2 separate regions of the Homo sapiens genome follow, and region 1 is linked to region 2. The links come from fine-mapping of genetic effects on gene expression. A gene starts in region 2. The other region holds a variant in brackets. All regions are shown on one strand. Distances are from middle to middle.

Region 1 (5,358 bases), 39 kb after region 2:
AGAGGCACTGGGGAAGCATCAGTGGACGGGGCTGGCCGGTTCCCGCCTTCAGGGAGCTCCGCTAATACCAGACAAGCCGACGGACCAGGAGCACCGTCCCCTCTGCTGGGCCGATCACTATGAGCCTGCAAGACGTGCCGTGGTCATGGCGGGGCGGTCAGGAAGGCCTCCGAGTCGGGGGGCTAATCACACGCCAGGCCCAGATGACCAGCAGGGCAGGCACGGTGGGAGGACTGGAAGGCGGGTGCCTGATGCCCCAACGCCCAGGCTGGCAGGGCTGTGCCTCTTTGCGCGGCTCAGCACAGGGACAGCAGGGGTGGCCAGACGCCCCTGCCTGCTGCGGCTCTGGCCTCCCCGGGCTAACTCTGCCCCCTCCCCCCCCCACCCCGTCCCCGCGGTGCCTGTCAGCTCATCTATGATGCTGGTGTCTCCTTCATCGTCGTCCTCGTGGTCTGGGCCGGCTGCTCCGGGCTGGTTTTCCTCAACTGCTTCTTTAACTGGCCCCTTGAGCCCTTCCCGGGGCCGGAGGACATGGACTACTCGTAAGTAGAGGTGCCCCCGTCCCGCCTGCCCCCAGCCCCCGCCCCCCAGCCGGGGTCCCGGGCAGCACCCACAGACACTCTCCCGGGGCCCCAGGGTGAAGATCAAGTTCAGCTGGCTGGGCTTTGACCACAAGATCACAGGGAAGCAGTTCTACAAGCAGGTGACCACGGTGGGCCGGCGCCTGAGTGTGGGCAGCTCCATGAGGAGTGCCAAGGAGCAGGTGGCGCTGCAGGAGGGCCACAAGCTGTGCCTGTCCACCGTCGACCTGGAGGTGAAGTGCCAGCCGGATGCCGCAGGTACCCGCCTGAGACCGCAGCCGGGCGACGGGCAGGGAGTGCTCTGTGGGTATCGGCTCACCCCATTCCCACCTCACCCCAAAAGGGGAGGCGGCCCCGCCCGCCCTGTTCTGCAGAGGCGCTCAGGAAGGCCTGGGGGAGGGAAAGGGATTTGCCTGATTTCACCCAAGAGGTGACCCCACCGCAGCGCCAACCCCGTTACCCTCACCAGGCCCGTCCCGAGGGCCCCCTCCTGGCCTCCAGCGTGGAGGGATCTGCGTGTCCCCCCGGTGGTGGGGACAGTGTGCCCCGGCCCTGAGCCCCGCACCCTCTCCCTGCAGTGGCCCCCTCCTTCATGCACAGCGTGTTCAGCCCCATCCTGCTGCTCAGCCTGGTCACCATGTGCGTCACGCAGCTGCGGCTCATCTTCTACATGGGGGCTATGAACAACATCCTCAAGTTCCTGGTCAGCGGCGACCAGAAGACAGGTAGGTGCCCCGGGCAGCCTCGGTCGCTGTCACTCCCCGGCCTGAGCCCAGCCCACTGGCCACCGGCCAGAATGTGTTAAGCTGAGCCGGGCCAGCCGGGCCATGGAAAGGCCGCATCCCAGGAGCTGTCTGCCCGTCAGAGCTATTGCATCACTGCCAGCCCCAACTGTTTCTTCGTGTCCCCATCAGGGTTTCCTGGTCCAGGAGGGAGGGAAGGACCAAAATAGCCTCCTGGGTGTGGGGTGTGGGGTGTGTGTTTTCCAGTGCCTGAGGGGGAGGGTTGCCGTGTGTGTCTGTAAATGAAAACAGAACAGAACGCTCCACCTGAGCATGGCTGAAAGACAGCAGGTCAAGCCCAAAGTCCTCCCAGAAAGTGGCACGGTGGGTGCGTGGACACCCTGGGCATCGAGGTCAGGACGGGGCTGGAGACGCTGGGGCAACTGGCCCACACTGGGATCTGCATCCCTCACCGAGAAACAGGGCAGGGCAGAGACTTCCTCGGAGCTTGCGAACAGTTGAGGCTTGTCAGCTCCAACAAACACAGCTGATAACCCACAGTCCACTTTTCCAAACAGGGCAGGTCTTCAGCTGATTAGAGGTTTTGATTCTACAGAGAAAGTCAGGACTTCCCCGGGGCCTGAGCTGAGTCAGCCTTAGTCATCCCCAGGCGGGACAAACACTCCAAATCCTTTTTATTGGCAGCCTCCCTGGTGTGCCACTTTTTCCGATGGTTTCCTTGTTTTTATCAAGGTGAAGATACCCTAGGACTTGTGAAGAATCAGTTATCAGGTTTTTAGGGGATGAGAAATCCAGCTTTATCAAAAGGAAAAGATAGCAAAGGGAACCAGATAACAGCCAGTTCTACTGTGAAAATGGTAGTCTAGGCCAGGCACGGTGGCTCACGCCTGTAATCCTAGCCCTTTTGGAGGCTGAGGCAGGTGGATCATGAGGTCAGGAGTTCAAGACCAGCCTGGCCAAGATTGTGAAACCCCCATCTCTACTAAAAATACAAAAAATTAGCCAGGCGTGGTGGTGGGCCCCTGTAATCCCTGCTACTTGGAAGGCTGAAGCAGAGAATTGCTTGAACCCAGGAGGTGGAGGTTGCAGTGAGCCGAGATTGCGCCACTGCACTCCAGCCTGGGCGACAGAGTGCGACTCCATCTCAAAAGAAAAAAAAATATCTGTGGAACACACTTTGGGGAACCCTAATCTATCATGTCTCTTTCTTTCTTGTTTTTTTGAGGCAGGGTCTCTTTCTGCGTTGCTTAGGCTGGAGTGCAGTGATGTGAACGCTGCAGCCTTGACCTCTTAGGGCTCCCCAGGTGCGCGCCACCACACCCAGCTAATTTTTAAATTCTTTGCAGAGATAGGGTCTTGCTGTGTTGCCCAGGTTGGTGTCGAACTCCTGGGCTCAAGGGATCCTCCCCTCTTGGCCTCCCAAAGTGCTGGGATTACAGGCGTAAACCTCCACACCCAGCCTGATAAACATTCAGCCCTGGAGTGGCGGAAACCCCAAAGTGTGCAGAGAGAGCTGGTCCCTGGCCCTCGAAAGGCTCATCTCCCTGCTGCTGAGTCAGCGTCT[T/G]TTACTCAAGCTGTCTGAGAAATCTTTTGCTGCCCAGGAGGAATGTTTCCAACTGTTTCGTATGTTCAAAAAGTCAATTTCAAGAAGTAGAGGAAGCCAGGCCAGGAAGGTTGGTCTGTGGCAGACGAGGCACTGGTTTTCCCCCTCCTCCTTCTGTGACCCGTTACACCCAACACCCATAGCCCTAGCTCCGGCCGAGAGGCAGCTGCAGGGTCCGGGTCACTTTCCGCACACTCGTGAGCTTTGCGGCTCCGCAGGAGGGGGTGTGCCGTGCTGCTGAGGAACGGCTCAAAGCACCAGAGCCATCGCCTCCGCGTACGGCCCCGCGACCACCCGCGGCAGAGGCTCCCGGGTGCTGGTTCCGAATGGAGACTCCAGGCCTTGCCGCTGACCGGTGACTCTGCTGCCTCCCAGCGTTTGAGACCCGCCATCAAACAGGAGTTGCGGATTCAGGGAAACCCTAACTAGCCAGGGTGCTGGCAGCTGGGAAAAGGCCGCCTTTTTTTTTTTTTTTTTTTTTTTGAGTTGGGGTCTTGCTCTGCCACCCAGGCTGGAGTGCAGTGGTGCAACTGATAGCTCACCACGGCCTCCGACTCCTGAGCTCAAGGGATCCTCCCACCTCGGCCTCCTAAGTATCTGGGACTACAGGTGTGTGCCACCATGCCTGGCTAATTTGTTTTTTTTTTTTTTCCATAAAGACAAGGTCTTGCTATTTTTCCCAGGCTGGTCTCAAACTCCTGGGCTCAAGCAGTTCTCCCACCTCAGCCTCCCAAAGTGCTGAGATTATAGGCATGAGCCACAATGCCCAGCCAAAAATACAGTCTTTTTTTTTTGACATGGATTTTCGCTCTTGTCACCCGGGCTGGAGCACAGTGGCATGAGCTCGGCTCACTGCAACCTCCGCCTCTCGGGTTCAAGCGATTGTTCTGCCTCAGCCTCCCAAGTAGCTGGGGTTACAGGCACCTGCCACCATGCCCAGCTAATTTTTGTATTTTTAGTAGAGACGGAGTTTCACCATGTCTCCAACTCCTGACTTCAAGTGATCCACGTGCCTCAGCCTCCCAAAGTGCTGAGATTACAGGCGTGAGCCACGATGCCCAGCCAAAAAGCCAGTCTTGAGATGGGGAAGACGTGGCCCATGCTGTCCTCAGCAGTGCCCAGTCCCAGCCAAAGTGGGCACTGCTGCCTCACTCTCCCACCCACCCTCAGGGTGTGGCACTTACTGGGAAGAAGCAGGCATTGAGAAACAGAATTAAGGGGGGAAAACAGTCCAGGGCCAACAGTGCTTGGGGATTGAGGCCTGAAAATGGGAGCAGGGTACAGAGGCTGTGGCTGGCCAGATGGGTCGGGTGCCCCCTGCACCCCCACCCCCTAGTCAGGGGCCACCTGTCCTACCCTCCCTTTGTAAGAGTTGACAGGTGACATGTTTTCCTATTGTTGTCCTTGACTTGATAACAATCTAGGAGTTAAATAGATACTATCATCTGTTTACGTCATCATTTATGATAGATACTATCATCATATACACCTGAAAAACGAGGCCTGGAGTGATGGAGGAGCTTGTTCAAGGTCAGAGCCAGCACTCACATATGGGTCTTAAGACACTGGAGCAGCCAAGGGCCTCTAGACCAGGACATTCCACTCGGAGCAGCAGCTCAGGGGCCACCAGGCCTCTGTGGCAGGGGGGCCATGGCCCAAGGAAGGGGAGCAGGCCCAGGCATGGTCCCCGTTTCTTGGAGTGGAAGGGAGACCAGCTCTGGCCATCTGGAGGAGACCCATGGTGTCAGATGCCTTGGCTGGGCATCAGGGGCAGGTTCTTTGACCTTTCCCTCTCTCTGAGCACAGCAGGAGGTAGATGTGACAGAGCCGCTTCCCGCAGGCAGTGTGGTGACAGGGACCCTGATTGCACCAGGTCTTCCGCATGCCCGCCACTTCCCCATCACGCTACCCGCCAACGTCACAGGCCTGATTCACCAGTCCGCCTGTGACCCGGCACCAGCAGACAGGAGAATGTCAGCAGGGGCCCGGGCTGGGCATTGTCCCAAGTCCACTTCCAGAGGCCTGGCTGCAGCTCTGCCTCCCCTGAGCGCCCCGAGTCACGCTTAGTGGGAAATGCAGTGCGGGAAACGCAGTGTGGGAAATGCAGTGCGTGCTGGGCATGGAGTGAGCCTGCCTCCTCTCCCATCTCTCTGTAGCACTGAGATTTCTGCCACTAACCTCTCTTCTTTCTGCTTTTTCACTTTTGCTTTCTTGATGCAGTGATGGCCACGGGTAAGCGGGGGGTGGGGGGGATTGTCAGGGAATGCTGTGATGTCCCCTCCCAGCCAGTCTCTGTTCAACCCAGAAGCTCCTCACCTCAAGCTCCAGACATGCCTCCTGGCTAGAGCCGTGGGGGTAAAACTGGGGCAATCAACATTCCTCGTCTGCTTCCCTGGAAAATCCACTGTCATTTTAAGTCTTTGAATATGGA
Region 2 (5,358 bases):
GTTTCTGAAGGATTTTGGCAGAAGTCACATTTACATTTCCCTTAGTGCCCTGGGATGAGATGGGGGCTGGATTTGAGGAACTGAAATCTGAAGGTGGCTCAACAACAGTAGTTGCGGGCCTAAGGGCACAGATGGACCGATTAGGTAAATATGTAGGAGATACAGCTGTATCAGTTTGATGGGGATGCGGTGAGGGAGAGGCAGAATCACAGCGACTGCCTAACAAATGTCTGATGAAAGGATGGTTCTCAGCAGGGCACTGTGAGTCATGCCTGTAATCCCTGCACTTTGGGAGGCTGAGGTGGGAGGATCACTTGAGCCCAAGACTTCAAGACCAGCCTGGGCAACAGGGCAAGACCCTATCTGTACAAAAAATACAAAAATTAGCCAAGTGTGGTAGCATGCACCTGTGGTCCCAGCTACTTGGGAGGCTGAGGCAGGAGGATCACCTAAGCCCAGGAGGTCGAGGCTGCAGTGAGCTATGATCATGCCACCACACTCCAGCAGTCTGGGTGCCTGAGATCCTGTCTCAAAAAAAAAAAAAAAAAAAGAAAAAGAAAAAAGACAGGGTTCTTGGTATCTAACTTCAGTAGACAGTAGTAGTATGGTTATCTGAGAGAAAATGTGGAGGACAGTTCTGGGGGATATTTGAGGCATGTTTGAGCCCTGCAGCGCCGTCAGGCTGCTCAAAGAGGAGGGAAGGGTGAAGAAAGAGATTTTTCAGATGGCAGTTGAAACCTTGGGAGTGGGAAGGGTTCCACAGGGTGAGGAACCGGGTAGGCTACCAGCTGGAGCCGCCCCCCAGCAGGCTGACAGCTCCAAGCGTTGTCTGGGGGAGGTTGCCCTCGCCAGGTGGCCCGGGCGGATTCTAGACAGTAGGGGGCACACTCGGACTGGGGCAGGTGGAGCAAGAGGCGTTTGGGGCTCCCACAGCCCTGGGGTGGTGGTGGGGTTTTATTTTTGGTTTTTATTTTGGTAGAGATGGTTCTCGCCATGCTGCCCAGGCTGGTCTCAAACTCCTGTCCCCAAGTGGCCCTCCGACCTTAGCCTCCCAAACCGCTGGGATTCCAGACGTGGACACCGCGCGGCAGCCCTGGGGTGCTAAGCCAGCCCCCCGGAGCGAGCCAGGGTGACCAAGGCGATTCTGGGGCAGTCAGAGGGTCTTCCCGGGTCGGGTTAGTGCCTCGAATCCGGGGGACGAAGACGGGGAGCTGAGCTTTCGGAGCCCGGGCTTATCAGACGGGGACCCGGAGCCCCCTCGAACCCTCCCTAGCTTGTACCAGCTGGCGGACGTGGCCCGTAGCATCGCCCTGCAGAGGGGACCTTCCCTGAAAGGGACGGGGAACGGGGTGAAGGTGGCCAGCGCGGGCAGGGAGCACCCAGATGACGATCAAGGGTGGAGGGTCCCCGGAGGACCGAGCAGTGCGTGAACACGGGCGGAGAAAGGTCAGTCTGATGGGGGGAGCTCAGGAGACCCCATCCTAGGACGGGACAGACCAGCCCCAAATCCCCTTGCAGATTTCCAAGGGCCAACTTCCAGGGACCGGGCAGACGCCACCGGGGAGAGGGGAAGGGGTCGGTGCATCAGCGGGGGGCGCCACGGCTGGACCGGGTCCGGGATCCCAGGCCCCGAATACGCCGGGACGGGAACCACCGGGGCGGGGGAGCGAGGAACCAGGACCCAAAGCCCGAGGCGGCGGGGACGGCGGCGCTGCGTGGGGAGGAGGCGGGGTGGGGATTCGAGAGTGGAACCACCGTGCGGAGCCGGCGCATCTGGGCGTGGTGACCCGCGCGCAGGGGGCAGCTGGGGACGGCGGGGCGGCCGCGGGAGAGCCCGGCTGGGGGCGCTGGTGGCCCGGCGGCTTCTGGGGGGAGTCCGCTGGGGGCCGGGACGCGGAGCCGGAGCCCCAGCCTCGCAGGGTCAGGCCGCTGGAGAGGCCGCGGGGCGATGTCGCCGGGGATTCCCGGCCGCGCTGTGACTCGGGTTGAAGGCTGCAAAGCCGAGGCCCGGCCCGCAGCGCCCAGGCCCCTCCCGTCCCCCATCTCTCTTGTTTGTCTCCGAGTCCGGCCGGAACCGGCTTCTGCTCGCGGCGGGGCGGGCGGGGGGCTGGCTGCTGATTGGTCGACGCCTGTTTCCAGCCCCGCTCAGCCAATCAGCGGGCGGCAGTGTTTTCTTCTTGGGGTCGGAATAAAAGGGCTGGAATAAAAGAGGGCAGAAAAGGCGCCGGGCGGGCCCGACACACGCCGGAGGAGCCGGGTGAGCTGCAGCAGGGAGGGGATCGCGGCCGGGGCGAGGGCGCGGGGGCAGAAGCGGCCGCCGAAGGGGCGTAGGGAGAAAACGTGGGAACGAGGAGAGAGATGGAGCGATGAGGGGCCGCCAGGGAAGAGATGACGAACAGATGCGGGCTGGGGAATGGAGGCGCGGGGGTCCGAGGCCATGGAAACGGGCGAGTTGCCGGGGGAACGCCCGAGATGGGGGTCGCGCGGCTGGCTCGCGCCACCGGTTTGAACCGGCTCCTCGTCTCCCACGCTGGGTTCGCGTGGCCGCAGCGCCTAGCGACCTAGACGGCGGCCAATGGCGCGGCAGTTCCTGCGCCGTCCGGCCAATGAGCGCGCCGGGGCGGGCCGTTCCGTAGGTCTGGGCGCTGATCTTGTGGTTGAAGAAACCAGCTCTGGGGAAGGGTCTCGGGCGCGGGCGGGAGGGCACCTGTCAGGGTCCCTGGGAGAGGCAGCCCTCGGATCTGCCCCTGCCCACCTCACGCTGCGTTCCATGCTGGCCCCAGGCGATGTCAGTCCTGCTGCAGGCCAGGACTAGTTCCACGGCCCTGAGCATGCGTTAGCCCCTTCTTGCCTCCATGCCTCAGTTTACCTCGGAGTGAGCTGCGGGAGACGTCTCCCTGCCTGGCCGGGGCGGCTCTGTCGTAGCGGAGGGCAGCGGTACGAGCCGGCCGCGGGCTCGGGGTGTCCCAGGTCCGGGCAGGGCTGGGGTTCGCTTCCTCTGCTGCGCGCACCGGCCGCCGCGGCCGGGGAGGGGTGGCAATCCCGAGCCCTGCGGCAGCGGTCGGGGCTGCTGGGGGCGGCCGCAGGGGCTGGGCAAGGGCCGGCCGCTGACGCCGAGTTCTGTGCGCAGGTGGTGCAGAGCCGGAGCCGGAGCCGGAGCCGCGCCGCGCCGCACCATGGCGCCCACCCTGGCCACTGCCCATCGGCGCCGCTGGTGGATGGCCTGCACGGCCGTGCTGGAGAACCTCCTCTTCTCGGCAGTCCTCCTGGGCTGGGGCTCGCTGCTCATCATGCTCAAGTCAGAGGGCTTTTACTCCTACCTGTGTACCGAGCCAGGTGAGACAAGCGCCTGGGGTTGCGGGGGGCTCCTGGAGCTGGGGCTTTGGGAGGGGGCGGGATGGGGGCGAAGACCTAGCGAGCCACAGCACCGCATTGCCCAGTGCCTCTAGGGTATCAGAAGGCCCATCTGATCCTCACCCAGCCCTGCCGGGTACTTGTCATTGCCCCTGTTTTGTGGACGAAGACATCGAGGCTCAGAGCGATCTGTCTTGCGCAAGGCCGCAGAGCCTGGGCCTGCCATCCACCCAGAACCCCACCTGCTGTCCAGGGTGTTCCTTCCACCCGCTACGAACAGTGCTGGACTGCTCTCCTCTCCTCCCAGCCCTGGAACATAGCTTGGCTGGTAGTAAACATGTTGCTGTCTGCTTGTGAGAAAGAGGAACTCCAGATTAAGGGGCTGGGGTGCAGCAGGAGAGGAAGTGGCCTTGCCTCCACCCCAGGGAGGGCTCATCTAGAATCTAGACGTTCCTCAGGCCATTGTGGAGTCTCCTAAGTGCTTGCTGGACACAATTTCTTGTCTATTTTTGCTGCCTTATGATTCTCCAAAGGACATTTCCCCCACGGGCTCTGAGGACATCTCCGTGGCTTTCCAACCCCATGGGGATGAAGGGGAAGAGAAGAAAGGAACGTTTATGGAAATGATGCTAGGGTTGTTCTCTCCTCTTTGCCTTGTCACTGGAATTGCTGAAGGCAGGCTGAGGATGCTTCTCTACATGACATCTGCACCACCCAACACACACTTACCTTCACACCTTCATACCCTGTTGGAGGGTCCTGATGACTACAGGGCAGTAAATTCAGCCCCACAGGAGGGCCACAGCAGCCCCCAGCCTCTAGCCTCCTACCCTCCTTCTTAGGCAACCTTGACAGGAAATTTTCCCTCTGCCTTCTCCTTGATCCCAACGGTAGCTGCATAATAGCTGAGCTCACATAATCCCTGTCGCCAGTGCTAGAGTGCCCTTAGATGGAGGTAGCCCAGGTTTGACTTCCTGAATCCCCAGCAGCAGGCCTTTTCTTTCTAGAGCTCTTTGCAGGAAGAGAAAGCTTTGGACCAGCTCATGCTGGGTGTAATCCTTTGTGGAAGCCTCCCTGTTTCCCTTCTCTGATCTGCCCCGGAGATTCCTGTGTGTCCCAGTCTCTAGGGAGGGAGGCTTAGCTGGAGAGGTTCAGGGCAGGAGAAAGCAGGAGAATGCAGAGGCCGCGGGGAGAGGACAGAAAGTATATCATTTATAACTAACCTTTAGCCTTTAGCCACTCAAAAATATTTCCTAATAGCCTAAGGGTTCTTGGCAGGTCTTTCCCCACATCAGCAAGAAATCTTGGGAGTTGGGAAGAGTCAGACCTTGTTCCCTGAACAAGCTTTCTGCTTTGGCCAAGAGTTGTTAGGAGATTAATGCCTGTCCCCGAAAGGCACAGGTTGGAGTGTTTACTTCTTCCTCTCCTTTCCTCTCTCCCCCCTTAGAGATCGTGACCCTTCCTGCTTGCCTCCCTGGTGGGCTCTTTCAGGCTGGACACAGGGTTTAAAAAAAAAAAAAAAAAGCAGAAAAAAAGTCATCGTCCCCAGAGAAAGCTTTTAGTGTCTCACCCAGACCAGAGAACTGTTGTGGGCAGGTGTTTTTTTGTGTGTTTTTTTTTTAACCCACCATGATGTCGGAAGGTCAGATTCTAGGTGTTTTTTGTTTGTTTTTTGTTTTTTGTTTTTTTTTAATAGAATGTCCACGGATTTAATTGATTGTATGGTTTTGGCAGAATTGGGTCTGGTCCTTTCATTCCTGCCTCAACCTCAGCTTCCTCCTCTGTCTAAGTGGGAGGAGTCCCAGAGATTGTGCCAGCGCAGTGCTGAGTTGGTGTTTTAAGCCCTGGGCAGACTTGACAGGTAACTCCACTAAACCAAAGTGAAGGTGAAGGGTCAGGATTGTGGGTTGAACATCAACTTCTTATCCCGAACTTTTGCTCCTGCCTCCAATTTTGGTTTTTCTTATTATCTGGCAAACATGCTGAGCCCACGTTCTGGGCGGG

What was found. PIP is the estimated chance that this variant, and not a neighbour inherited with it, causes the effect.
Region 1: its variant is fine-mapped to the expression of SLC43A2 in blood mononuclear cells (TOPMed, PIP above 0.99).

The regions. Positions count from the first base shown.
Region 1 is chr17:1,586,750-1,592,107 of GRCh38, reverse strand. It overlaps SLC43A2 (solute carrier family 43 member 2), which reads left to right. Exons shown (of 14, transcript NM_152346.3): 7 at 409-542; 8 at 637-839; 9 at 1,160-1,306. Among named protein-coding and RNA genes, the nearest start is that of PITPNA, 27 kb to the right of the region's middle. RefSeq lists a silencer at 81-246 and enhancers at 1,014-1,559, 1,560-2,105, 3,747-4,293, 4,294-4,840, 4,841-5,358. The variant T/G (reference allele first, on the strand shown) is at 2,889.
Region 2 is chr17:1,625,693-1,631,050 of GRCh38, reverse strand. SLC43A2 (solute carrier family 43 member 2) reads left to right here and starts at 2,217. Exons shown (of 14, transcript NM_152346.3): 1 at 2,217-2,257; 2 at 3,131-3,336. The coding sequence starts at 3,177. RefSeq lists enhancers at 2,969-3,506, 3,507-4,044.